Linked DNA regions of Homo sapiens: region 2 is linked to region 1. Evidence: fine-mapped expression QTL. A gene starts in region 1. The other region holds a variant in brackets. All regions are shown on one strand. Distances are from middle to middle. Region 1 holds the start of GNA15 (G protein subunit alpha 15). Region 2 overlaps GNA15 (G protein subunit alpha 15).

The links.
Region 2: its variant is fine-mapped to the expression of GNA15 in whole blood (TOPMed, PIP above 0.99). The same link has a PIP of 0.9 or more in blood mononuclear cells.

Annotation. Positions count from the first base shown.
Region 1 is chr19:3,128,131-3,144,286 of GRCh38, reverse strand. GNA15 (G protein subunit alpha 15) reads right to left here and starts at 8,254. Exons shown (of 7, transcript NM_002068.4): 1 at 7,692-8,254. The coding sequence starts at 7,836. GNA15-DT (GNA15 divergent transcript) reads left to right here. Exons shown (of 4, transcript NR_110670.1): 3 at 1,094-1,224; 4 at 1,857-2,711. It also overlaps the pseudogene RPL35P10. RefSeq lists an enhancer at 2,241-2,741.
Region 2 is chr19:3,155,909-3,168,517 of GRCh38, reverse strand. GNA15 (G protein subunit alpha 15) reads right to left here. Exons shown (of 7, transcript NM_002068.4): 5 at 12,566-12,609; 6 at 10,637-10,790; 7 at 4,769-5,725. The coding sequence ends at 5,499. Among named protein-coding and RNA genes, the nearest start is that of GNA15-DT, 7.0 kb to the right of the region's middle. RefSeq lists enhancers at 4,247-5,107, 5,108-5,969, 5,773-6,067. The variant G/A (reference allele first, on the strand shown) is at 5,060.

The DNA of each region.
Region 1 (16,156 bases):
ATCAAGTTTTTGGAGCTTTGGCTATTTGGGGCTAGTAGCAGAGGGAATTGTGAGCTTGCTGGCCCTTGACTGGGTGTCCCTGGTGAGCTAAGAGCTGGAGTCCCACCATCTGTCCTGAGCCTCACCACGAGAGGGGGACAACTCTTTTTTTTTTTTTTTGAGAGGGAGTCTTTCTTGCTCTATCGCCCAGGCTGGAGTGCAGTGTCGCGATCTCGGCTCACTGTAAGCTCCACCTCCCGGGTTCACGCCATTCTCCTGCCTCAGCCTCCCAAGCAGCTGGGACGACAGGCGCCCACCACCATGCCCAGCTAATTTTTTTTGTTTTTTTTTAGTAGAGACGGGGTTTCACCATGTTAGCCAGGATGGTCTCGATCTCCTGACCTTGTGATCCACCCGCCTCGTCCTCCCAAAGTGCTGGGATTACAGGCGTGAGCCACTGCGCCTGGCCAAGAGAGGGACAACTCTTAGCCCTGTTTCCATGTGGGGAAACTCAGTCTCGGGGCCGTTGAGGGAATTGCTGTGGGTCGCACAATTCCTTCAATGGTCCTGGTGAGTGGCAGACTGGGATTCAAACTCAGTTCTGTTTGAGTCTAGAGCCTATGGGCTTTTATTTTTTATTATTATTATTATTTTTGAGACAGGGTCTCACTCTGTCACCCAGGCTAGAGTGCAGTGGCTTGATATTGGCTCACTGCAACCTCCACCTCATGGGTTTCAAGCGATTCTCCTGCCTCAACCTCCAGACTAGCTGTCATTACAGGTGTGCACCACCGTGTCCGGCTAATTTTTGTATTTTTAGTAGAGACAGGGTTTTGCCATTTTGGCCAGGCTGGTCTCGAACTCCTGGCCTCAAGGGATCCACTTGCCTTGGCCTCCCAAAGTACTGGGATTACAGGCATGAGCCACCTTGAGCTTATGGGTTTCTAAATTATTATACCTGGAGGTTCCTTTACCCTGCCTGAATGATTATAACAATCATAATAAAAATCACAGCTAGCATGATTTAAATCTTACCGTCTTCCCAACCCCGAGCCCAGAGACTCTACGGATCCCCAGTTAATCCTCACAGATTCTATGATTTTCCCATTTGCAGATGAGACACAGAGGACCAGAGAGGTTTAGTGACTTAATTTGGGTCACACAGCAAGTGGAACCCCAGGGGAGTAAACTTGGGGTCGTGTGAGTCCTTCACCAACAAAATGGGACACGGCCAGTCGAGCTGGGGTAGGTGTCATTAACACGTCTGTTAAAGCAATGTTTTTACAGAGTCTGGGAGGCTCGACAGCTCCTTGGGGTGTGGCATTGAGCCCAACTGCCGATGACTGGACTTTTTGAGCTCCTGTCCCCCAATTGCCTTCCAACCCTCAGATCTTCTTCTTCCTTTTTTTTACTTTTTGTTTTTATTTTTATTTTTTGATATAGAGTCTGGCTCTGTCACACAGACTGGAGTGCAATGGTGTGATCTCAGCACACCGCAACCTCCTCCTCCCAGGTTCAAGCGATTCTCCTGCCTCAGCCTCCCAGGCAGCTGGGATTAGAGGCGTGCACCACCACACCCGGCTAATTTTTGTGTTTTTAGTAGAGACGAGGTTTCACCATGTTGGCCAGACTGGTCTTGAACTCCTGGCCTCAAGTGATCCACCCCTCCTCAGCCTCCCAAAGTGCTGGGATGACAGGCCTGAGCCACCGCGCCCAGCCAGGACTGGACCTTTTGGGCTCCTGTCCCCCAGTTGTCTTCCAACTCTCAGATCTTAGTTTGCCCCAAAGTGCAGAGAACAAACATAAGTCTTGGCAAGCAACAGTTGGCTTTATTTTGTGATGCACTGATTTTTTTTTCCTCTTCTGCTTTGTTATAGGAAATAAATGATAATCCTGTTGCCACCCGCGACACAGATTTGATGACTCAGGGATGGGTCATCACCCGAAGCCTGAAGAGCTGCGTGAGAACCCCCTCTTTGCAATCCATTGCTGTCCTGAAGCCACAAAGGATTCTGGGACCTCTCCATTGCCCCCCGACCCCCAGACATCCCCCAGCTCCTGGATAGAAATGGTGGGAGTGATCTGTTTTAGGATACCCCCAAAGGCCATGCGGCCCAGACGGGAAGTTCCTGCTTCCTCCTGGGCACGGAGGAGGACAGGAGGAAGTGGAACCGGCAGATGCCAGGAAGGAACTGGGTTAACCGTGCCAAGCCCCAGTCATCACAAGGCAACTGGAGCCAGCTATGTGCACAGAGTCCAGCACCAGGCCCTCACAGGAAACGCAGCTGCTGGGGAAGTGGGGAGCCAGGCCAGGCAGCCGCAGGGGCAGGAGGCTCGGCCTCTCAGTCCCGCTCTGGCTCAAACTAGCTGCTGACCCCCAATCAATCCTGCTGCCTCCTTGGGCCTCATTTTCCCCATCTGGCACTGGGGTTCTGTGGTGTTTCTGTCCCCCAAGGCAGGCGAACAGGGCAGTCAGGAGCATGGACTTTGGAACCAGAATTCTAGGTGCGAGTCTCAGCTGTGTGACCTTGGGCAAGTCGCTCTGCCTCTCTGAGCCTCAGTTTATCCTTTGGGGGAAACTAGGAGTGCCTGCCTCAAAGTGCTAAGAACAGGCCGGGCACAATGGCTCACATCTCTAATCTCGTCACTTTGGGGAGGCCAAGGCAGATGGATCACCTGAGGTCAGGAGTTCGAGACCAGCCTGGCTAACATGGTGAAACCCCGTCTCTACTAAAAATACAAAAATTAGCTGGGCATGATGGTGCACACTTGTAGTCCCAGCTACTCAGGAAGCTGAGGCAAGAGGATTGCTTGAACCCAGGAGGCAAAGGTTGCCGTGAGCCGAGATCGCACCACTGCACTCCAACCGGGGTGATAGAGTAAGACTCTGTCTCAAAAATAAAAATAAAAAATAAAATGTTTAAAGTGCTAAGGACATAACTGGTCCCTTTCACAGCTTTATTTTCCTGTTTTTGTTGTTGTTCACTTTCTTTTCTTTTCTTTTTTTGTTTTTGTTTAGAGACTGGGTCTCGCAATGTTGTCCAGGCTGGTCTTGAACTCCTGGGCTCAAGCAATCCTCCTGCCTTAGCCTCCCGAGTAACTGGGACTACAGGTATGTGCCACCATACCCGGCTCACGGCTTCATTCTGACTCTCCCCCTTCCCCAATATGAGGGTTGCTTCATGTCAGGGACAGACCCACCCCCACCCTGGTCCTTTTTGCCATCTTCCTCAAAAGGATCAGCCACCTCCAGGTAAAAAAAAAACAGCTTTTGGATTCAATTCCTGTTTCCAAGAAGGGACAGAGGTCTGGAGGTTGCCCTCAGACCTGTCTCCAGGGATGAGGTGGTTTAAACCACAGTCCACAGTGCTACATCAGTGCCTGGGGACATGGATGTCATCCCCTGCCCTCCATCAGTAGAAGGGGCTTCCTGCTTTGAGGCTGGCTGAGTAGTGCCCAGAGTGGTATGTGGAAGGGACTTTCCCAGCTCCAGGAAGATATGATACAGTGTCTGGGGGAAGTTCTCCCCAAAAATGATTCATTCATTCATTCATTCATTCATTCAGCATTTCTTGAGCATCTACTATATGGCAGGCTCATTGTACACCTGTGCTAGATGCTGGAGACACAGGGATGAAGAAGACAGATGTGGTCCCTACCCTTTTGTTGCTTGCTGTATAGCTGGAGAGATAAACAATAAACAAGTGAACAAATAGTGAGGGCCAGGAAGAAAAATCAAACAGAGTAAGGGGAAGGAGAAGATAGGACTGTCTTTATAGCTAGGGTAGTCAGGGAAGACTTCTCTGAGGAGGCGACACTTGGGTTGAGACCTACATGGAGTGAAAGGGCCAGCCAGGCAAAGGTCAGGGATAAATGACCTTGAGGTATTCGAGGAAAGAGCACTAAAAGTGATAAACCCCTAGCTTGATAGATCAAGAAAAAAATGAGCAAAGGCAGAAATGATCGATACCAAGAGCAAAAGAGAGGACATCACTGCAGATCCTACAGACAGTAGCAGGAGAACAAGGGAACGTTATAAATGTTATGCCAATAAATTTGATAACACAGGCAAAATGGACAAATTATTTGAAAGACACAAATGATCAAAACCCACACAAGAAGAAGTAGATAGCCTAAGTAGCCCTATTTATTTAAAATAATAAGACATATCGATATGATACGTCATAATGTGACATAATATGACACATTAATATGTCAAATATAGATAGATAGATAGATAGATAGATAGATAGATAGATAGATTTTTTTTTTTTGAGATGGAGTTTCACTCTTATTGCCTAGGCTGGAGTTCAGTGGTGTGATCTTGGCTCACTGCAACCTCTGCCTCCAAGTTAGAGCAATTCTCCTGCCTCACCCTCCCAAGTAGCTGGGACTACAGGTGCGCACCACCACGCCTGGCTAATTTTTGTATTTTTAGTAGAGATGGGGTTTCACCACATTAGCCAGGATGGTCTCCATCTCCTGACCTCGTGATCCACCCTCCTCGGCCCCCCAAAGTGCTGTGATTGCAGGCGTGAGCCACCGCACCCAGCCCTGATTTTTTATATTTTTAGTAGAGACGGGGTTTCATCGTGTTAGCCAGGATGTTCTCAACCTCCTGACCTCATGATCTGCCCACCTCGGCCTCCCAAAGTGCTGGGATTACAGGCATGAGCCACTGCACCCGGCATTTTTTTTTTTTTTTTTTTGAGACAGAGTCAGCTTTGCTCTGTCACCCAGGCTGGAGTGCAGTGGCATGATCATAGCTCACTGCAGCCTCAACCTCCCAGGCTCAAGTGATCCTCTCACCTCAGCCTCCCAAGTAGTTGGAACTACAGTTGCGCACCACCATGCCTGGCTAATTATTTTATTTATTTATTTTTTTTAGAGACTGGGTCTTGCTAAGTTGCCCAGGCTGGTCTGAAACTCCTAAGCTCAAGCAATCCTCCCACCTAGGCCTCCCAAAGTGCTAAGATTACAGGAATGAACCACTATGCCCTGCTGAGATATTCTTTTATCTCGTTCAGTAAGAGGGATCAAGGCTAGAGTTGAAAGGGCCCTTGACTGGGTGCAGTGGCTCACGCCTGTAATCCCCACACTTTGGGAGGCCAAGGTGGTAGGATCACCTGAGGTCAGGGGTTCGAGACCAGCCTGGCCAACATGGTGAAACCCCATCTCTACTAAAAATACAAAAATTAGCCAGGTGTGGTAGTGCGCACCAGTAGTCCCAGCTGCTCAGGAGACTGAGGCAGGAGAATCACTTGAACCCAGGAGGCGGAGGTTGCAGTGAGCTGAGATCTCACCACTGCACTCCAACCTGGGGGACAGAGCAAGACTCAATCTAAAAAAAAAGAAAAAAAAAAAAAAAGAGGCTGGGCGCGGTGGCTCACGCCTGTAATCCCAACACTTCGGGAGGCCAAGGCGGGTTGATCACCAGGTCAGGAGTTCGAGACCAGCCTGGCCAACATGGTGGAACCCCATCTCTACTAAAAATACAAAAAAAAAAAAAATTAACTGGGCGTGGTGGCGCGTGCCTATAATCCCAGCTACTCAAGAGGCTGAGACAGGAGAATTGCTTGAACCCGGGAGGCGGAGGTTGCAGTGAGTTGAGATCGCACCACTGCACCCCAGCCTGGGTGACAGAGCAAGACTCCGTCTCAAAAAAATAAAAATAAAAATAAGAAAAGAAAAAAGAAAGAAAGGGCCCCCAGTGAAGGTGCAGTTCCTGGGGGTCCCCACCATCCCACTCGATGTTCTCTCTCTTTCCTCTCGGGCGGCCTCTTCCCACTGAACGAGGAAAGGACGATAGCAACCATCACGGGATGATCAAGCTCTTTGCCCGGGGCAGACAAACGCGAGTCCAGAAGACTTGAGACCTTCTCCAGCCCCCAACCCAGAGCTCGGGGATCCCAGAAGACCCTCCCAGGCTAGCATCCCGGGCTTAGGCCAACGGGGCCATAATCAGGGAAAGGTAATTGGGGAAACAAGCTACGGGAATGAGAAGACCCCGAGGTTTCAGAGATCAGAATTTTTTTTTTTTTGAGACGGAGTTTTGTTCTTGTTGCCCAGGCTGGGGTGCAATAGTGCAATCCTGGCTCACTGCAGCCTCCACCTCCTGGTTTCAAGCGATTCTCCTGCCTCAGCCTCCCCAGTAGCTGGGATTACAGGCACATGCCACCACACCCGGCTAATTTTTTTGTATTTTGAGTAGAGACGGGGTTTCGCCACGTTGACCAGGCTGATTTCGAACTCCTGGCCTCAAGTGATCTGCCCGCCTTGGCGTCCCAAAGTGCTGGGATTACAGGCATGATTTATTTATTTATTTTATTTATATTTATTTATTTATTGACAATGAGTCTTGCTCTGTCATCCAGGCTGGAGTGCAGTGGCCCGATCTCAGCTCACTGCAACCTCTGCCTCCTGGGTTCAAGCGATTCTCATGCCTCAGCCTCCCGAGTAGCTGGGATTATAGCTGTGTGCCACCATGCCCAGCTAATTTTTGGTTTTGTTTGTTTGTTTATTTGTTTGAGATGGCGTCTCACTCTGTCGCCAGTCTGGAGTGCAGTGGCATGATCTCAGCTCACTGCAGTCTCCACCTCCTGGTTTCATGCAATTCCCCTGCCTCAGCCTCCCGAGTAGCAGGGACTACAGGCACGCACCACCACATCTGGCTAATTTTTGGTATTTTGGTAGAGATGGGGTTTCACCGTGTTGGTCAGGCTGGTCTCGATCTCCCGACCTTGTGATCCACCCACCTCGGCCTCCCAAAGTGCTGGGATTACAGGCATGAGCCACCATGCCTGGCAAATTTTTGGTATTTTAGTAGAGACGGGGCTTCACCATGTTGGCCTGGCTGTGTCTTGAACTCCTGACCTCAAGTGATCCCACCCGCCTGGGCCTCCCAAAGTGCTGAAATCACAGGCTTGAGCCACTGCACCCAGCCAGAGTTCAGAATCTTGAACCGTTACTGACGTCGACTCCCCCATCTGAAGCCTCCGCATGGAAGCCATCACCCTGTTTTGTTTTCTCCTAGATAATTCTTGTTGCCAGAATTATTTTATCTGCTTATGAGTTTACAGACTAAATGTCTTGGCTCCTTCACAGGAAATGAGATCCAGGAAGACAGAAATATCTTCCCCTGTTTGGCTGCCTCGTTCCTGGGAGCTACCCAATAAATCTTAAATGAATGAATAATGAATGAATGAACCAATGAACCAATCAATCCATCCTTTCTAGCCCCCAAAGGAGCCCTAGACAAGCCCTCTCCAGCCATGGCAGGGAGGTAAAGGCGAGAGGGAGCGTCCTGGTGAAGGAGAGGCTGGAGCCGGCCCCTCCCTTACGGGTGGGCTGGCCAGAACGGGTTGCACACCTGAGCTCATCATTCCCTCGCCATGACACAGACAGGTAGGGCGTGCTGGGCCTGCCCGGCAGGGGCCCGGTAGAGCCACGTCTGCTATTGTATATGCCCCACACAGTGGACAGGCCTGGGCACCTGGCCGCTGGTCGCACGTTGGACAAGGAACTTGGCTTCTCTGAACCTCAGTCTTTCTCATCTGGAAAATGGGTTCCAGGCTCCCCATTCCCTGGGAGGAGGCGACGGCTCCACGATGCCAATGTCTGACCTAGCCTGATCCGCCTCCTTGCCCCGACACCCCTGCCGGCTGGCCACCGCCCACTGCCCACCACCCACCGCCCACCGACCCTGGACTCACCCAAAAGCAGCAGCTTCAGCTCCCCGCGGTCCTGCTTCTTCTGCTCCAAGAGGATCCTGTTGATCTCCTGGTCCACCCGGGCGGCGGCCTTCTCATCCTCCGTCAGGCACCAGGGGCAGCAGCGCCAGGTCAGCGAGCGGGCCATGGTGCGGTGGCCTCAGTCGGCACCGGGTGGCATCGCCCCCGGGCCCCTGCTGGCCAGGGCAACCCCCAGCCCAGCCGGCCCTGGAGAGGGCTCCGGGCAACCGGGTGCGCAGGGAGGCTGCCTTTTCCTTGGGGGTCACCCCCCAGGGACCTAGACTTCCTTGCCTGAAACACCCAGGAAGCCCGGCTCGGCGGTGGCAAGGCTTGAGTGCTGGGAACAGGGTGGGGACGGGAGGAGGTGGGGAGGCCAGGGCTCCCCGCCCACCTCCAGACCTGCTCAGACCCGGCCCGACAGGTTGACGGTGAAGGGTGCCAGGAGAGGGTGAGGTGGGGGCCCCAGGGAGGGCGGGGCGGTGGCGGGAAAACCCCCACCGCAGACTGGGTCCTGTGTGACCAGCAGGGCCCTTCTTCCTCCTTCTGGAGAAGGGGCGGATTCTCCTCAGGCTTCACCCGGAGCTGTCCCCCTCCTCGGAGCCAATCAGGAACCGTCAGACCCGTGCTACTGCTGATACATTATATATATATCATATATATATGTGTGTGTATATATATATATGTGTATATATATATATATATATATATATATATATATATATATATATATATATTTTTTTTTTTTTTTTTGAGACAGAGTTTCACTCTTATTGCCCAGGCTGGAGTGCAGTGGCAGGATCTTGACTCTGCAACATCTGCCTCCCAGGTTCAAGCAATTCTCCTGCCTCAGCCTCTCGAGTAGCTGGGATTACAGGCATCCACCACCACGCCGGGCTAACTTTGGATTTTTAGTAGAGAAAGGGTTCCACCACGTTGGCCAGGCTGGTCTCAAACTCCTGACCTCAGGTGATCCACCCGCCTCGGCCTCCCAAAGTGCTGGGATTGCAGGCATAAACCACCACGCTCGGCCCTTCTGATATATTTTTAAGAAACAGCTCAGGCCAGGTGTCATGGACTGTTTCCAGCGACTCTGCCCTGACCTCAGGTGATCCACCCTGCAGAGGTGGGCAGCTTGCCTGAGGTCAGGAGTTCGAAACCAGCCTGGCCAACATGGCGAAACCCTGTCTCTACTAAAGATACAAAAATTAGCCGGGTTTTGGCTCACATTAGCTGGTTTTACACTCACATCACCCTGTATAGTTACTACTGTCATCCCTGTTTGACTGATGAGGAGGTTGAGGCATAGAGCAGGGGAGTGACCGGTGGGGCTGGCACAAGGCAGAGCCGGGAGCCTATCCCTCACCTGCGGGGCCCCAGAGTCTAGACGCCTACCAGGCAGATTCCAGGCAGGGCCATCCCTTCATTGTGCGTGCATTCATGGAGCGCCAACTGTGTGCCAGGCACGGTAGCCAAGAGACACAGATCCCAGACCTCCTTACCTAAGGTTCTAGTTAAAGAACAGATAATAAAATAAATTTTAGGCTGGGCCTGGTGGCTCACGCATGTAATCCCTATACTTTGGGAGGCCAAGGCGGGCAGATCACAAAGTCAAGAAATCGAGACCAGCCTGGCCAACACGGCGAAACCCCGTCTCTACTAAAAATACAAAAATTAGCCGGGCGTGGTGGTGCACGCCTGTAGTCCCACCTACTTGGGAGGCTGAGGCAAGAGAATCGCTTGAACCCGGGAGGCAGAGGTGGCAGTGAGCTGAGATCGTGCCACTGCACTCCAGCCTGGCGACGAAGTGAGACTCCATCTCAAAAAAAATAAAAAATAAAAGAATAAAAAATTTGGCCAGGTGAGTGCGGGAGCTCACATCTGTAATCAAAGTACTTTGGGAGGCCGAGGCAGGAGGATCACTTGAAGTCAGGAGTTTGAGACCAGCCTGGCCAACATGGAGAAACTCCATCTCTACTAATACAAAAATTAGTTGGGCATGTTGGCACGCACCAGTAGTCCCAGCTACTTGGGAGGCTGAGGCAAGGGAATCACTTGAACCCCGAAGATGGAGGCTGCAGTGAGCCGAGATCATAACACTGCTCTCCAGCCTGGGCAACATAGTGAAACCCTGTCTCCAGAAACAAACAAAACAAAACTCTCCCTCTCTCTCTATGTATATATATACACACACACACATACATATATATACACATACATATATATACACAATATATAGACACACATACATATATGTATATACACATACATATATACACATACATATATATACACAATATATAGACACACATACATATATACACATACATATATACACACATAAAAGTATACATTTTAATATACATATATGTATATTATACATAAAAATATATATGTGTGTATATATATACACACACGTGTAAAATATATATATTTTTTAATACACCTGAGCCCGTTGGATGGTGAAAAATTCTGCCAGAAAAATTAAGCAGAGATGTTGTTGGGGAAGGTTCAAGGTCATTGCTCTAAATGGATCAACAAAGGTCGCACAGACAAGTGATATTCAGGATCAGAAGTCAGACAGGCAGATCGGGTGTAAGAGGGACTTTGGGAGTGGACCTCACTGGTCAAGGAGATCTTCCCAATGAGTGCCATGAGGCCGCCCTGACCTGATCCCTCTGGGACTTCAGGGCCCTAGGGGTGGGCTGGTGGCTGGCAGCTTGGTAGAAACGTTGCTGCTTCCTAGGTACTCAGAGCCAGAGTGTTTGGGTGAAGATTCCCCACCCCCATTGACAGGCTGTAGAAAATTCTAGAAAGTTCTGGATCAAAACTCTCCTCCCCAAGAGATACACGTAATTCTTGTACTTCGGGGGCCTCTGGTCCCTTTACAGATAGGGCAAGGCACAGAGAGGGCGAATTACGTGCCCAGGGCCACACAGCCATTGGCAGCCACCGTCCCCACCTCCTCCCAGACACCAGGGCTCGGTGACAGCCGTTGACGCAGCTTCACCAGCTCAGCACAAACGTGTGGTTTTCTCCACTGTTGATTCATAACGAATGACAGATGGGAAGTACGATAGGGGCCCCCATCTGGTCACTGGGGCTGGCAGGTGCCATCTGCCCACCCAGCCACCCACCTTCCCGCCCCCAACCGGATAGCAGCAACGAGGGGCAGTCCCACCCAGGACAGGCAAAGAAACGCAGAAATAGGTCATGGCCGTGCAGATCTTCCAGGATGGTTGAAACAGAAATGACCAGCAAAACTGGGAGACGAGGCTGAGCCACAGGCCCCACAGGGTGAGCCCAGGGGGCCACTCTCCTAGCATCTCCCTGCGGCATTTTTGGACAGGATACCAGCACCCGCCATCTTCACAGCCTGGACCAGGGTGGCAGACCCTCTGTGGCTCCCGCTGGCTTCAGAATTAATGAGCCGGCTCCCTGGATCCAGGGCCCAGGCTCTGCCCACTTCTCCAGCTGCTGAACAAACCTCCCTTGCGGTTCCCTAAACGGGCTGAGCTACTTCCTTGCCACATGCTGAGCATTTGTCGTGTATTATTAGCTCAGCTGGGAACACCAGGGTGAGCTTGTGTGTGTAGAAAATATTTCTTTCAGAAAACACATAAAACCTGAATGTATTACCTAATAAATTGTTGTGAAGCCGGTATCCACAGAATCCACTGAGGCCAAGACTAAGGACATTTTCAGGCCGGGCGCGGTGTCTCACGCCTGTCATCCCAGCACTTTGGGAGGCCAAGGTGGGCAGATCACCTGAGGTCAGGAGTTCAAGACCAGCCTGGACAACATGGTGAAACCCCGTCTCTACTAAAAATAGAAAAGTTAGCCAGGTGTGATGGTGCACACCTGTAATCCCAGCTACTCGGGAGGCCGGGGGAGGAGTATTGCTTGAGCCTGGGAGGTGGAGGTTGCAGTGAGCTGAGATCGTGCCACTGCACTCCAGCCTGGGTGACAAGCAAGACTCTGTCTCAAAAAAAAAAAAAAAAAGACCTTAGCCCCACAAAGACCCCTAGTGTTTTCCTCATAGTAATCTCTACCTTCCCAGCAGTAACTATCATTCTGACTTCTGTGGTATTAATATTTATTTCCGGGTTTGGGGGGTATTTTTTGCTAATAAGATCTATTTCAGCTGGGCATGTTGGCTCATGCCTATAATCTCAGCACTTTGGGAGGCTGAAGTGGGAGGATTGCTTGACCCCAGGAGTTCAAGACCAGCCTGGGCAACATAGTGAGACTCTATCTCTTTTTTTCTTTTTTCTTTCTTTCTTTCTTTTTTTTTTTTTTTTTTTTTTTTGAGACGGTGTTTTGTTATTGTTGCCCAGGCTGGAGTGCAATGGCTCGGTCTCAGCTCACTGCAACCTCCACCTTCCCAGTGAGACCCCATTTCTAAAAAATAAAATAAAATAAATTAGCCGGGGGTGGTGGCTCATGCCTGTGGTCCCAGGTACTCCAGAGGCTAAGGTGGGAGGATTGCTTAGGCCAGAGAGGTTGAGGCTGCAGTGAGCTATGATTGACCCACTGCACTCCAGCCTGGGTTGACAGAGCAAGGGTCTGTCCCCCCCAAAAAAAGATCTTGTTTTTAATTGTCTAAATTTATGTAGCATTGTATTTACTTTCTTTGGTGTATGGTTCTATGAGTTTATTTATTTATTTATTTATTTATTTATTTATTGAGACGGAGTCTGTCTCTGTCACCCAGGCTGGAGTGCAGTGGCACGATCTCGGCTCACTGCAAGCTGAGCCTCCCGGGTTCACGCCATTCTGCTGCCTCAGCCTCCCGAATAGCTGGGACTACAGGTGCCCACCACCACGCCGGGCTAATTTTTTTTGTATTTTAGTAGAGACGGGGTTTCACCATGTTGTCCAGACTGGTCTCGATCTCCTGACGTCGTGATCCGCCCGCCTCGGCCTCCCAAAGTGCTGGGATTACAGGCGTGAGCCACCGCGCCCGGCCTGGTTTCTATGAGTTTTAACAGCTGTAGAGATTCGTGTAAATTACTGCTATAAACAGGATACAGAATGTAGTTCCATCACCGGAACAACTCCCTCCTGACCGTGGATTGGCTCTTTGTGGCTGTGTTTTTTGTTTGTTTGTTTGTTTTGGTGTTTTTTTTTTTGTTTTTTTTTTTCTCAGCCAGCTGTGCTTTATTGACAACGCGCCACTCGGGCCTTGACCGCGCACTTCCGCACTGGGGACAGCTGCTCGCTCTGCTGCTGCTTCTTGATCGTCAGGTTCTCCTCGTGCTTGCTGAGCGGGCGGCGCACGGCGCGTGTCTTCTTAGGCCGCAGGTGCAGGTGCTTGTACTTCTTGCCCTTGTAGAATTTCCCGAGGTTTTCTTTCTGAGTCTGGTTAATAACCGTGAGAACACGGGCAATGGATTTGCGGACGACTCGGATCTTTTTTTTTTTTTTTTTTTTTTTTTTTTTTTGAGACAGAGTCTCCCTCTGTCGCCCAGGCAGAAGCGCAATGGCGAGATCTCGGCTCTCTGCAAGCTCCGCCTCCCGGGTTCACCCCATCCTCCTGCCTCAGCCTCCCGAGTGAGTAGCTGGGATTACAGCCGCCCGCCACCACGCCCGGCTAATTTTTTTGTATTTTTAGTAGAGACGGGGTTTCGCTGTGTTAGCCAGGATGGTATCGATCTCCTGACCTCGTGATCCGCCCGCCTCGGCCTCCCTAGAGTGCTGGGATTACAGGCGTGAGCCACCGCGCCCGGATCTTAGGGAGCTTGGAGGCCGCGCCGCCCGTCACTTTGGCGACGCGCAGCTGGGACAGCTCCACCTTTAGGTCGTCCAGCTGTTTCAGCAGCTCCTCCTCCTTCTTCCCGAGAAGGTCTTGGGCCTTGATCCTGGCCGTTGCTGCACAGGCCGCCGCCCCCGCTCGCTCCGAGGGAAATAGCTGTTGCTATGTTTTTTATTTTATTTTTTGAGACAAGGCCCTTCTCTCTCGCCTAGGCTGGAGTGCAGTGGTGCAATCATGGCTTACTGCAGCCTTGACCTCCTGGGTTCAAGCGATCTTCCCACCTTAGCCTTCCGAGTACTGCGCACCACCACCATCTAATGTTTTTTTTTTTTTTTTTTTTTGAGACAGAGTCTCACTCTGTCGCCCAGGTTAGAGTGCAGTGGCACGATCTCAGCTCACTGCAAGCTCTACCTCCCAGGTTCAAGCAATTCTTCTGCCTCAGCCTCCCGAGTAGCTGGGATTACAGGTGCGAGCCGCCGTGCCCGCCTAATTTTTGTATTTTTAGTAGAGACAAAGTTTCCGCCCTGTTGGCCAGGCTGGTCTTGAACTCCTGGCCTCAAGTGATCCACCTATCTCAGCCTCCCAAAATGCTGGGATTACAGGCGGATGCCACCGCGCCCGGCCCTAATTTTTTTATTTTTGTAGAGATGGGTTTCTCTGTGTTGCCTAGGCTGCTCAGGAGCTCCTGGCCTCCCAGCTCAGCCTCTCAAAACGTTGGGATTACAGGCGTGAGCCACCGCACCTGGTCCAGAAAGTAGCTTTTGAGACTGGCTTCTTTCAGTTAGCATTTGCGATTCCTCTGTGTTGCCGAGTGTATCAGAAGTTCGTTGCTTTGGATGGTCCAGTGGTATTTCCCTGTGTGGATGCATTCCCCTTTATCCAACCGTGAGGGGCATTTGGTTGCTTCCAGTTTGAGGTGATCATGAACAGAGCTGCTATATACATTTGTGTACATATTTTTTTCTTTTTTTTCTTTTCTTTTCTTTTTTTTTTTTTTTGAGACAGCGTTTTGCTCTTGTTGCCCAGGCTAGAGTGTAATGGCGTGATCTTGGCTCATTGCAACCTCCCCCTTCCATGTTCAAGTGATTCTCCTGCCTCAGCCTCCCGAGTAGCTGGAATTACAGGCATGTGCCACCACGCCCAGCTAATTTTTGTAGTTTTAGTAGAGACGGGGGTTTCACCATGTTGGCCAGGCTGGTCTTGAACTCTTGACCTCAGGTGATCCACCCACCTCAGCCTCCCAAAGTGCTGGGATTACAGGCATGAGACACCACACCTGGCCAATAGTATTTTTGTTGTTGTTGTTTAGCTGTGGTTTGTTACAGATGCCCTTTATCAGGTTGAGGAAGTTCCTTTCTACTCCTAATTTGCTTAGAATTTTTATCATGAATGAAAGTTGAATTGTATCAAATGTATTTTCTTTATCTATTGATATGATCATGTAGTTTTTCTTTCGTCTGTTAATATGGCAAGTTATATTGACTGATTTTCCAATGTTGAGCTTGTCTTGTATTCCTGGGATAAATGCCACCTGGTGGTGAGGTGGTTTTCTTTCTGTATATCACTGGATTTCATTATTTCACTTGCTAATATTTTGTTAAGGATTTTAGTATCTATGTTTTTGAGTATACTGATCTGTAATTTCCCTGTACTGTCTTTAATTTTGGTATCAGGATAATACTGGCCTCTTAAAATGAGTTGGGAAGTATTCCATCCTCTTCTATTTTCTGAAACAGATTGTGAAGAATTTGATGTTATTTTTTCTTTAAATGTTTGATAGGATTCACCACTAAAACCATCTGGGCCTAAAGTTTTATTTTATTTTTCATTTTTTATTGTTGTTGTTGTTTGAGACAGAGTCTCGCTCTGTCACCCAGGCTGGAGTGCAGTGGCATGATCTTGGCTCACTGCAAGCTCTGCCTCCCGGGTTCACGCCATTCTCCTATATCAACCTCCCAAATAGCTGGGACTACAGGCACCCACCACCATGCCCAGCTAATTTTTTCGTATTTTTAGTAGAGACGAGGTTTCACCGCGTTAGCCGGAATGGTCTTGATCTCCTGACCTCGTGATCCACCCGCCTTAGCCTCCCAAATGTTTTATTCTTTAGAAGACTTTAACTTCAAATTCTGTTTCTTTAATACGTATAGGACTGTTCAGGTTTTCTGTTTCTTCCTGAGTGAGTTTTGGTAGCTTGTGTCTCTCGAGAAATTGGTCCATTTCCTTTAAGTTGTCAAATTTATGTGCATACACTTATTTGTAGTATTCCCTTATTATCCTTTAAATTTCTTTAGGGTGAGTAATGATATCCCCTCCTTTGTGCCTGTTGCTGGTAATTTCTTTTTCTCTCTGGAGGGTGAATCTAGACTAAAGGTTTATCAATTTCATTAATTTTTTTCAAAGAACCAGCTTATGGCTTTATTGATTTTTCTATACTGTTTTTCTATTTTTTATTCCATTGATTTCTATTCTATTATTTTCTCTTTAGTTTGTGTTTAGTTTGCTCTTCTCTTTCTAATTTCTTGGGAGTAGAAGCTTAAAATATTAGACCTTTCAGGCCAGGCGCAGTGGCTCACAGCTGTAATCCCAAAAATTTGGGAAGCTGAGGCAGGTGGATCACCTGAGGTCAGGAGTTCAAGACCAGCCTGGACAACATGGAGAAACCCTGTCACTACTAAAATACAAAAATTAGCCA
Region 2 (12,609 bases), 26 kb before region 1:
GAGTCGAGATCGTGCTGCTGCACTCTAGCCTCAGTGACAGAGCAAGACTCTGTCTCAAAAAAAAAAAAAAAGAAAGGATTGCAAATATCAGTGTGAATTCAGGATCTCATGATTTATGCAAAAAACATAAAAAAACCCTGTCCTAACTTTCCACTGAGACAATCCCAGAGCAAGGAGCACCTAGTGCCCAGATCGTGGCTTCTAAAGATCACCTCCCTCCCCCTACAGCCCCTTGCTGAAAGGATCCAGGGAACCTGGGAGGAAGGGTTGATTCCAAGAGTAGGGCAGGAGATGAGCCTGGAACATCTCAGTGTGCCAGAGAGGGAGGGCGTGATCACAGAGGGAGGAGGACCTGGCAAAGAACACAGGAGCCAGCTCGGAGGGGCTGCTGCCGGCCAACCCTGGGTTAGAAATGGATGGATGACCTCAGCACATGACCCAGCAATTCTGTCGCTAGGGTCACACTCAAGAGGAATGCAAGCATGTCCACTCGAAAACTCACACCTGGCCGGACACAGGGGCTTATGCCTGGAATCCCCGGGGAGGCTGAGGCAGGAGGAACCCTTCAGCCCAGGAGTTGGAGGCAGCAGTGAGCTGAGGTTGCACCACTGCACACCAGCCTGGGTGACGGAGCAAGACCTTGTCTTTAAGGGGAGTAAAAAACAAACAAAACAAAACAAAAAGGCCAAATAGTAAATATTTTTGGCTTTTGGGGCCAGACAGTATCAGTGGCAGTTACTCAATTCCATGGATGCAGGAACAGCCTGCGTAGACACAGGTACATGAATGGACATGACCGTGTTTCAATAAAACTTTACAAAAGCAATTGAAGTAGTATTTGGCCTGTGGGTAGCAGTTTGCCGGCTCCTGACCTGGATGAAAAATACAGGGGAATACATTGTAATGGTTTTGTAACTTCTGTAGGTTTCAAATATTTTTGCACTAAAAATAAGCGAACAAAAGATGTGTTTCCGCAAAGACTTGGAACCAACCCAAATGTCCATCAATGATAGACTGGATTAAGAAAATGTGGCACAGGCCGGGCGTGATGGCTCACGCCTGTAATCCCAGCACTTTGGGAGGCTGAGGCGGGCAGATCACAAGGTCAGGAGATCGAGACCATCCTGGCTGACACGGTGAAACCCCGTCTCTACTAAAAATACAAAAAATTAGCCGGGCTTGCTGGTGGGCGCCTGTAATCCCAGCTACTCAGGAGGCTGAGGCAGGAGAATGGCATGAATCCGGGAGGCGGAGCTTGCAGTGAGCCCAGATTGCACCACTGCACTCCAGCCTGGGTGACAGAGTGAGACTCCGTCTCAAAAAAAAAGAAAAAGAAAATATGGCACATATACACCACAGAATACTATGCAGCCATAAAAAAGGATGAGTTCATGTCCTTTGTAGTGACATGGATGAAGCTGGAAACCATCATTCTGAGCAAACCATCACAAGGACAGCAAACCAAACACCGCATGTTCTCACTCATAGGTGGGAACTGAACAATGAGAACACGTGGACACAGGGTGGGGAACATCACACACCGGGGCCTGTCGTGGGGTGAGGGGAGGGGGGAGGGATAGCATTAGGAGAAATACCTAATGTAAATGACGAGTTAATGGGTGCAGTAAACCAACACAGCACATGTATACCTATGTAATAAACCAGCACAGTTGTGCACATGTACCCTAGAACTTAAAGTATAATAATAAAAAAAAAGACAAGATGTGTTTCCTCACTTGGTGCTCAGATTGTGGTCTCTAAATATCATCTCCCATTCAAAGGAAAGAGGGCTCCTTGGAGAAACGATCCAGTGCAGATCTGAAGCTGACAAAGTAAAGGATGAGTTAAAAGCATCTCGCTGTGCCCAGTCAAAAAACTCTTAAGACCCACTGGGTCATGGCTGGGCACAGTGGCTCACGCCTGTAATCCCAGCACTTTGGGAGGTCGAGGCGGGAGGATCACCTGAGGTCAGGAGTTCGATACCAGCCTGGCCAACATGGCAAAACTCCGTCTCTACTAAAAATATAAAAATTACCTAGGTGTGGTAGCGCATGCCTGTAATCTCAGCTACTCAGGAGGCTGAGGCAAGAGAATCGCTTGAACCCAGGAGGTGCAGGTTGCAGTGAGCTGAGATCACACCACTGCACTCCAGCCTGGGTGACAAGAGTAAAACTCTGTCTCAAAAAAAAAAAAAAAAAAGAGGAGGCTGGGCGCGGTGGCTGACGCCTGTAATTCCAGCACTCTGGGAGGCCAAGGCGGTTGGATCACGAGTTCAGGAGATCGCGACCATCCTGGCTAATACAGTGAAACCCCGTCTCTACTAAAAAATACAAAAAATTACCCGGGCGTGGTGGCGGGTACTTGTAGTCCCAGCTACTCAGGAGGCTGAGGCAGGAGAATGGCATGAACCCGGGAGGCAGAGCTTGTAGTGAGCCGAGATCGCATCACTGCACTCCAGCCTGGGTGACAGAGCAAGACTCCGTCTCAAAAAAAAAAAAAGAGGAAAGAGACTTAAGAGACACAGCACCCAAGCGCCACGCACGGGCTTTGTTTGGGTCCTGACTCCGACCAACCAATGGTGAAAAGACATCCGCAACGTATGATCGCCAGGGATGAGCCACTTTGTCATGATGAACCCAGTCAGGTGATGCCCTGAGTGGCTCTGACATCCCTTTCTGTCACCAGCAAACCTCACACCAACCCAACCTGAGGAACGGCTCAAGAAACAACCAAGCAAAACTCCTCCGACGTGTCACAAAGGAAACTGAGGCACTGCCCCAGAATGAGGAGAGGGAGGCAGCTCATGGCGATGTGGGATCCGGGATTGGATCCTGGTCCAGGAAAGGAGGACGGGAGCGAGAACCCGCCACATTCTAGTAAGGTCTACACACAGGTTCGTTCATAGGACGCTCGCTGATGTGAATTTCCTGGGTTGTACTAGGGTTACGTAAGAGGTAAGAGGAAGCTGGGTGGAGGGCATTTGGGAACTGTGTACAACTTCTGCAACTTTTCTGTGAGTCTAAAATTCTTACAAAACAACAACAAGAGGCAGAGCGCGGTGGCTCACACCTGTAATCCCAGCACTTCGGGAGGCCGAGGCGGGCGGATCACAAGGTCAGGAGATTGAGACCATCCTGGCTAACACGGTGAAAGCCCGTCTCTACTAAAAATACAAAAAATTAGCCAGGCGTGGTGGCGGGCGCCTGTAATCCCAGCTACTCGGGAGGCTGAGGCAGGAGAATGGTGTGAACCTGGGAGGCGGAGCTTGCAGTGAGCCGAGATCACACCACTGCACTTCCAGCCTGGGTGACAGAGTGAGACTCCGTCTCAAAAAAAAAACAGAAAGATAGGATGTGGTGAGAAGGGCTGTCACCACTGAGGTCTTCCTCCCTGAAACCCATCACCCCAGTCTGACCAGCAGCAAAATGTCAGACCAAACTCAGTGGAGAGGGTTTCTATAACATACTTTTATATTTATTTATTTATTTATGTATTTATTTATTTATTATTTGAGACAAGGTCTCACTCTGTCGCTCAGGCTAGAGTGCAGTGGCAGGATCTTGGCTCACCGCAACCTCCGCCTCCCGGGTTCAAGCAACTCTCATGCTTCAGCCTCCCAATTAGCTGGGATTGCAAGCATGCACCACCACGCCCGGCTCCTTTTTGTATTACAAAATACCTTTTATAGGTTCAAATGTGGCTCCCCTACAAAGATATGATGAAGTCATAACCCCCGGTATCTGTGAATGGGACCTTATTTAGAAATACGGTCTTTGCCGATGTAATCAAGTTAAGATGGGGATGACAGGCTGGACCCTGATCCAGTGTGACTAGTGTTTTTATAAGAAGAAAAATTAGGCCAGGTGTGGTGGCTCATGCCTGTAATCCCAGCACTTTGGGAGGTCGAGGGAGGCGGATCACTTGAGGTCAGGAGTTTGAGACCAGTTTGGCCAACATGGTGAAACCCTGTCTCTACTAAAAATACAAAAATATGGCCAGGTGTGATGGCACACAACTGTAGTCCAAGCTACTCAGGAGGCTGAGGCAGGAGAATCACTTGAACCTGGGAGGTGGAGGTTGCAGTGAGACGAGATTGCGCCACTGCACTCCAGCCTGGGCCACAGAGCGGGACTCCATCAAAAAAAAAAAAAGTAGCCAGGTGTGGTGGCGGGTGCCTGTAATCTCAGCTACTGCAGAGGCTGAGGCATGAGAATCACTTGAACCCAGGAGGCAGAGGCTGCAGTGAACCGAGATCGCACCACTGCACTCCAGCCTGGGCAACCAAGTGAGATTGTCTCAAAAAACAAACAAATAAAAAACCACAAATGTGTTCAACGTAGGAACAGGCTCCTGCCTCTGTCAATTCCAGGTGTGTGAGCTTAGTCAAATTACTCCACTTCTCTGCGCCCCGGTTTCCTCACCTGTAAAGTGGGGTGCTACGGCTTGCACCCCAGAACACTGCCCTGAGGATAGTAAGAGGCCTTCTCAAAGCTGGGTGGGGGCTGCTACTGGAATTTCAGGTCAGTAGCCACGGAGGAGTCTGCTTCAATGTCCCCCCCAGCCTGGGAGGGAGGTTGGACTCCACGTCCCGGCTTGCGGGACTCACAGCCTCCACAGTTCTGGGTACCATGGCCAGGACAGGTGGGTAGACAAGAAGTATAACTTTTTTCCTTCCTACTCCACGTTGCTCCCCGCACTGTAAGCACTGCCCCCGGGACACGTAAGCCGAGAAAGGAATGCAGAGGGGATAAACAGGACGCTGGCGACGCAGCCTCTAAGAAATCTTTAATTTCAGCCCGCACGGAGCCCTGCAGAAGGTGAGGGAATAAATACAAAAGGTTAAGATGCAGCATGCCCAGCCCCCAGCCTGCAAGGGATGGGGGGATGCTTGTGGGCCGCGATTTCTCTCGTCCGCAAACCGGGGCAGGACACGCTGTGAGCCACCGAGCTCTGAAAGTGACAGTGTTTTCCAGCGGTCTGTTACCCCTTGCAAAGGGAAGTCCCTGCACCCCTAGTCCACAGGTTCCTGGAAGGCGTTCCTTCTCCTGTCCACTAGAGT[G/A]CGCCAGAGTCCACGCCCGAAGGCGCCTGAAGGCTCTACTAGCCCCATCCCAGGGTGTGCGTCACCCACAGAGGGTCCCAGAACCCTGCCCAGGAGGTGACACGCCCGGAGATGGGGCTCCTGAGAGATGCCCACCCACCCAAGTCCTCAATCCCCTGATTTCTTCACCTTTTCATCCACCCTGGCATCCCAAATGGCCGTTTTGCTCCTTCCCTTTCAAAGGAGGGAAACTGAGTCAAGCAAGGGCAGGAGTACCCTGGGGGGCGGCTGTCCTGGTGAGAGGCAGAGAAGAGAGCGGCCAGCAGCGGGCCGTCCGTCCCCCGACTCCCTTGCGTGTGGGCCGAGGCTGGAGAGATAGACCAGGGACACTAGGGGTCCCTGCAGCCACTCCCACCTCCCACCCGCCCGCCGGTGCCGCCTGCCCCAGGTGGGGCCTGGGTCACAGCAGGTTGATCTCGTCCAGGTAGCGGGCGAGCACCGAGTCCCGCACGTCCTTGAAGACCTTGCGGATGTTCTGTGTGTCTGTGGCACATGTGTAGTGGCTGAAGAGGCGTCGGGATCGTGCGCCCTTCTTGCTGCCCTCGGGGCCGTCCACGCACCCGGTGTACATCCTCGTGTACATGTCCAGGATGAACCTCTTGGCTGCCTCAGCATCCTGCTTAGGGCCTGGGGAAACAGTGTGGGAAGGGGGTGAGGACCCTCCCTCTTTGGACCCAGGGGGCCTCTGGAGACCCTCTTCCCTGTAACCAGCACTGAAGGGACCCAGGGATCGCGCCTGTCATTTTTCTGTGCGTTGACTCCATCTTTTGTAGTCATAGCTGGTCACACGACTCCGGCCCAGCCAATGGGAACACAGGAGATTGTCTCACACGAGTCATGTGACCTGAAATGGACCAATGAGACCCAGCTCTGGGACTTCGGGCAGAACTGTGTTAAAGAGAGACACTCTCTTGGCCTCGCTTACAGCCAGTGCAGTTGGAAGACTGGAATCGCATAGACAAATATCCCAGGACTGTGAAGATGGCGGCATCAAGGCCAAACGAGGGGAAGAGAGTCCTCTTTTTTTTTTTCTTGAGATGGGGCCTCGCTCTGTCGCCCAGGCTGGAGTGCAATGGTGCAATCTTGGCAGTAGCTGGGATTACAGGCGCCTGCCACCATGCCCAGGTAATTTTTGTATTTTTAGTAGAGATGGGGTTTTGCCATGTTGGCCAGGCTGGTCTCGAACTCCTGACCTCAAATGATCAGCCCGCCTTGACCCCCCCAAAGCGCTGGGATTACAGGCGTGAGCCACTGTGCCCAGCCCTGCATAGGGTTTTAACATGAAGATTAAAGAAGCTTTGTAGAGTGCTTCCACCAGTGCGGTAGATGTGTTAGCTGCTGTTATCAATTTTATTATTATTATCATTATTATTATTATTATTATTTTGAGACAGAGTCTCACTCTGTCACCCAGGTTGGAGTGAAGTGGCATGATCTCAGCTCACTGCAACCTCCACCTCCTGGGTTCAAGCGATTCTCCTGCCTCAGCCTCCCGAGTAACTGGGATGACAGGCCCCCGCCACCACACCCAGCTAATTTTTGTATTTTTAACAGAGATGGGGCTTTGCCATGTTGGCCAGGCTGGTCTCAAACTCCTGACCTAAAGCGATCTGCGCGCCTCAGCCTCCCAAAGTGTGGTTTCTTATTATTATCACAAATATTATTTAGCACAGTGGAGGGTAGGGCTGGGAGTCAGCAAAGAGTGCACCAGTCACTTGTGCTGGGAGACAAGGATGAGTCATGGGTGGTTCCCTTTGACCTGAATGAAAAAAATATCTACCTTATCCTGTTCCCAAATTCTCTAAACTATGAGCTGATTCCCAGGGCTGCTTGGCAAGGAAGAGGGGCTATCCAGGCCACCATCCTGGAACAACTTGACGTCTATCTCCCAGACCCTGAATCTTGTGGGTATAATTGGCTAAAATTGGCCTCATGGGCTCTGAGACATGACAAGACCAGGGATCAAAACCTGGTGACTTCACCAAAGTTTATGTTTACTGATTGTGGACCTGGTGTCAAGCATGTACTAAGGACTCATCTACTATGGTTGCTTGTATATTGAGGTGAACAGTGTCCCCCAAAATTCATGTCCACCTGGAACTTCAGAATATGACTTTTAGAAATCGGATATTTGCAGATGTAATTAGTTAAGTTAAATTAGGTCATGGCCAGGCATGAGGGCTCACGCCTGTAATCCTAGCACTTTGGAAGGCCAAGGCAGGTGGATGACAGATGTGTGGTTGGGCCCAGGAGTTCCAGATCAGCCTGGGCAACATGGCGAAACCCTGTCTCTACAGAAATATACAAAAATTACCCAGGTGTGGTGGTGTGCGCCTGTAGTCCCAGCAACTCAAGAGGCTGAGGTGGGAGGATCACCTGTGCCCAGGAGGTTGAGGCTGCAGTGAACTGTGATCACACCACTGGACTCTAGCCTGGGCAACAGAGCAAGACCTTGTCTCAAAAAAAAAAAAAAAAAAAAAAAGTGGTCATACCAAAGTATGGGCCCTAAATCCAATGACTGGTGGCCTTATAACAACAGGAGAGGACACATAAAGGCATGGTGAGAAGACAGCCATGTGAACATGGAGGCAGAGATTGCAGTGATATGTCTACAAGCTAAGGATTGTAGGCCACCACCAGAAGCTGAGAGAGAAGCATGGAATGGATTTTCCCTTAGAGCCTCCAAAAGGAACCAACCTTGCCAATACCTTAACTTTGGACTTCTGTTGTTTCCTGTTGTTTTAAGCCACCCAGTTTGTGGTACTTTGTTACGGCATCCCCAGGACATGAAGGCAAGTTATCTCCAAGATGGCTGCCGTCACTTCCTTCCCTCCCTGTATGCATGTGTCATGCTGCCTTCAAGAGATGGAGTCTCTTTCTTTTGAATCCGGGCTGATATGAGTGATGTGCTTGACAAATAGAATGTGGCAGAGTAACGTCTGACATTTCTGAGGCTATCATGAGAAGCAGCTTCCACCTGGGCTGAAGTCTGTCTACCCTGAGGCAGCCATATTGTGAGTAAGCTCAAACCATGTGAAGAGGCTGTGGATCATGAGGCCCCAGATGGAGACAGAGAGAACAGGGGAGGTGGAAAAGGAGAGACAGACTAGGAGAAAGGGGAGGAGAGAGAGATGAGATGGGAGAGGGAGGCAGGGAGAGACACAGAGAGAGAGGCCAAGAGTGCCAAGAGCACCAAGGCACCAGACATATGGGGGAAGAAGCCATCTTGGAAGTTTATCTCCAATCCCATAGAGCCCAGCTGATGTCACATGGATCAGAGATGAACTTACCCAGCTCAACCTTTCCCAAATTCCTGACCCACAAAATCATAAGCAAAGGAAAATGACCAGTTTAAGTCACTAAGTTTGGGGATGGTTTGTTACTCGGCAGTAGCTAAGCAGGACACCCGCCACCACACTTTATCCTCACAGTGGTGTTCTGGGGAAAGTGCTAGTGAATATGTACCTTCCCCACGTTGGTCCCTGGATTAACCACAACTCTGCCTCCCCTTTGTAAAATATACTAAGTGGTGCCCAACACTAGATGGTGTTTCTCTGTAGTTGCCCTGTGGCCCTTTCACCCTCTGGATGGACTGAGAGTTTGTTCCCAAACCTGTTTTTGCCCATTGTACGTGTCTTGATTCATATGTAATTAAAAGAAACGTTATGCAAATCTGTAGCTACAAGTGCCGCATGAAAGAAGGTCATTGTATTACAAAACTAAGCTGTGTGCTTTGGAAACATTGTTCAAAGCTCTGCTTTAAAAATTAAAGAGAAAGGCCAGGTGTGGTGGCTCACGCCTGTAATCCCAGCACTTTGAGGCCGAGGCGGGTGGATCACCTGAGGTCGGGAGTTCAAGTCCAGCCTGACCAACATGGAGAAACCCCGTCTCTACTAAAAACACAAAATTAGCCGGGGTGGTGGCTCATGCCTGCAATCCCAGCTACTCGGGAGGCTGAGGCAGGAGAATCCCTTGAACCCGGGAGGCGGAGGTTGCGGTGAGCCGAGATTGTGCCATTGCACTCCAGCCTGGGCAAAAAGAGCAAAACTCCATCTCAAAAAAAAAAAAAAAAAGAAAAGAAATTAAAGAAAAAATAGACTGGGCACGATGGCTCACGCCTGTAATCCCAGCACTTTGGGAGGCCGAGACAGGTGGATCATGAGGTCAGGAGATTGAGACCAACCTGGGTAACATGATGAAACCCCATCTCGACCAAAAATACAAAAAACTAGCCAGACGTTCTGGCGGGCACCTGTAATCCCAGCTACTCGGGAGGCTGAGGCAGCAGAATGGTGTGAACCCAGGAGGCAGAGCTTGCAGTGAGCTGAGATTGCGCCACTGCACTCCAGCCTGGGCAGCAGAGCGAGACTCCGTCTCAAAAAACAAACAAAAAAAAATTAAAGAAAAAATGGATTAAAGAAAAAGAAATTGCTATCCAATTAGGGATAGATGAGATCACTATGAAAGATTAGAAAAAGAAACGTTATGGCCAGATGCGGTGGCTCACGCCCGTAATCCCAGCACTTTGGGAGGCTGAGGTAGGTGGATCACTTGAGGTCAGTTCGAGACCAGCCTGACCAACATGGTGAAACCCCATCTCTACTAAAAATAGGACAGGAAACTACTAAAAATTAGCCAGGCTTGGTGGCACGTGCCTGTAATCACAGCTACTTGGGAGGCTAAGGCAGGAGAATCACTTGAACCGGGGAGTTGGAGGTTGCCATGAGCCAAGATCGCACCACTGTACTCCAGCCTGGGTGACAGAGTGAGACTCTGTCTCAAAAAGAAAAAATAGAAGAAAGAAAGAAAAGAAAAAGAATCATTCTTAAAACCTAGGCAGATTCTGGAAATAGTAGACAATCTTTCCAGAAGTGCTTTACAACAGTGACCTCTACATAGCAAACCCATGCTTGAAGGATCTTGGCTCAAACCCCAAATGTTGGCCAACAAGCATAAAATAAAATGTTTGGCCGGGCATGGTGGCTCCTGTCTATAATCCTAGCACTTTGGGAGGCTGAGGCGGGTGGATCAGGAGGTCAAGTGATCGAGACTATCCTGGTCAACATGGTGAAATCCCGTCTTTTCGTACTAAAAACACAAAAATTAGCTGGGCGTGGTGGCGCGCACCTGTAGTTCCAGCTACTAGGGAGGCTGAGGTAGGAGAATCGCTTGAACTCTGGAGGGAAAGGTTGCAGTGAGCCGAGATCACGCCACTGCACTCCAGCCTGGTGACAGAGCAAGACTCTGTCTCAAAAATAAATAAATAAATAAAATGTTTAAGGTGTACGTGATATGCTACGTGTTTTTAGAATTCCTCACTTTACTCAGTTCCAAGGGCCTCTGCTATTTTATTCCATTCCACAGAAGGGAAAACAGATTCAATGAGGTCGGGCAGTGGATGGAGCTGAGTCTAGAACGCGGGTCTGATCCTATGTGAAAGTTCCGGTGACTCCAGGCTGAAGTAGAGTCTGGATTAGCATCTCTCTTCGGAGCTGCTTTTGGGAGTTGAAGGGTATAGAAAGTTCTAGAATTACTTACCCTGGAAACTGGGGAAATAGGTAGCCAGGTGGGAGGTGGGGATTTTCTCCTCCAGGATGTCGGTTTTGTTGAGAAAGAGGATGACGGATGTGCTTTTGAACCAGGGTAGTTCCAGGATAGTCCCAAACAATGCGAGGCTCTCCTTCATGCGGTTCTGTGTTGGGGGCAGAAGCAGGTTAGTGCTTCAACCAGCCAGGTGGGACAGGAAACCCTCCCATCGCGGAGACGGGGCTGTTGGCTCCAGGGGCATGGGCTCACCCCTATCTGCCTGGCTGGGGCTGAGGCGGGTGTGCCCGTGTTTCCATATGGACAGCTGCCTGGGTGTGCCTGACATGGTTTTGTGCCTGTGCTGGTTGGAAGTGTGTCCTCCCGAAATTCATGTCCCCCCAGAGCTTCAGAGTGTGACCTTATCTGGAGAGAGATTCTTGAACTCCTGGCCTCCCAGCGTGCTGGGGTTATAGGCATGAACCACTGCACCTGGCCTGGAGATAGGGTCTTTGAAGAGGTCGTTAAGGTGAGGCAATACTAGAATACGGTGGCCCTCAAGTCCGTGACTGCTGTCCTCATAAGAAGAGGGAGACCTGGCCGGGCGCGGCAGCTCACGGCTGTAATCCTAGCACTTTGGGAGGCCAAGGCGGGCAGATCACCTGAGGCCAGGAGTTGGAGACCAGCCTGGCTAACATGGTGAAACCCCGTTTCTACTAAAAATACAAAAAATTAGCCGGGCATGATGGCAGGTGCCTGTAAACCCAGCTACTCGGGAGGCTGAGGCAGGAAAATCGCTTGAACCCGGGAGGCGGAGGTTGCAGTGAGCTGAGATCGCGCCACTGCACTCTAACCTGGGCGACAAAAGCGAGACTCCATCTCAAAAAAAAAAGTACAATAAGGTCTCAAATGCCTTGTGTTATGGGGTACATCATATTTCCCCAAAATTCATACGTTCAAGACCTAACCCCCTAGAACCTCAGTTTGTGACCTTCTTTGGAAACAGGGCCATCACACGAGGAATTAACCCAGATGAGGTCGTACTGGAGTAGGGTGGGCCCTGATCCTAGACGACTGGTGTACTTATTAAAAGAGGCTATTGGCTGGGCACAGTGGCTCACGCCTGTAATCCCAGCACTTTGGGAGGCCGAGGCGGGCGGATCACGAGGTCAGGAGATTGAGACCATCCTGGCTAACATGGTGAAACCCCCTCTCTTCTAAGAATACAAAAAAAAAATTAGCCGAGCGTGGTGGCGGGTGCCTGTAATCCCACCTACTCCGGAGGCTGAGGCAGGAGAATGGTGTGAACCCGGGAGGCGGAGTTTCCAGTGAGCCGAGATCGCGCCACTGCACTCCAGCCTGTGCGTGTGCGTGCATGTGTGTGTGCACGCATGTGTGTGCCTGTGTGCCTGTGTGTGCGTGTGTGTGCCTGTGTGTGCGTGTGCATGTGTGTACTGTGTGTGTGCATGTGTGTGTTCATGTGTGTGCGCATGTGTACATATGCGTGTATTGTGCACGTGAGTGCATGCAAGTGTGCATGTGTGTGGTGCATGTGTGTTCGTGTGCATGTGTTGTGCATGTGCACTGCGTGTGTACATGTGTCCCGTGTGTGCACGTGTGTATGTGCATGTATTATGCACGTGTCTGTGCGTGTTTGTGTGCATGCATTGTGTATGTGCGTGTGTGCACTGTAGTGTGTGTGTGTGTGTGTGTGTGTGTGTGTGTGTGTGTGTCTGGGGTCCTGACCAAACAAATGCTGTAGGTCTGTGTCTTGGGTTGCTGCAATCTGACCACAAAAGGCTGAAGGGTCAAGTTCATAGCCATGCTGGGCACACACAGGCCCGTTCAAGAGCAGGGATCCCTCCCTTTCTGCACCAGAGCTTCCTGCTCAGGTGAGGGTCCCTGGGCCAACAAGTGGGCAGGGCGAGGGAGGCGGTGGCGCACCTCCTGGTTGTTCTCCTCCAGGCACTGGTCGTATTCACTCAGTG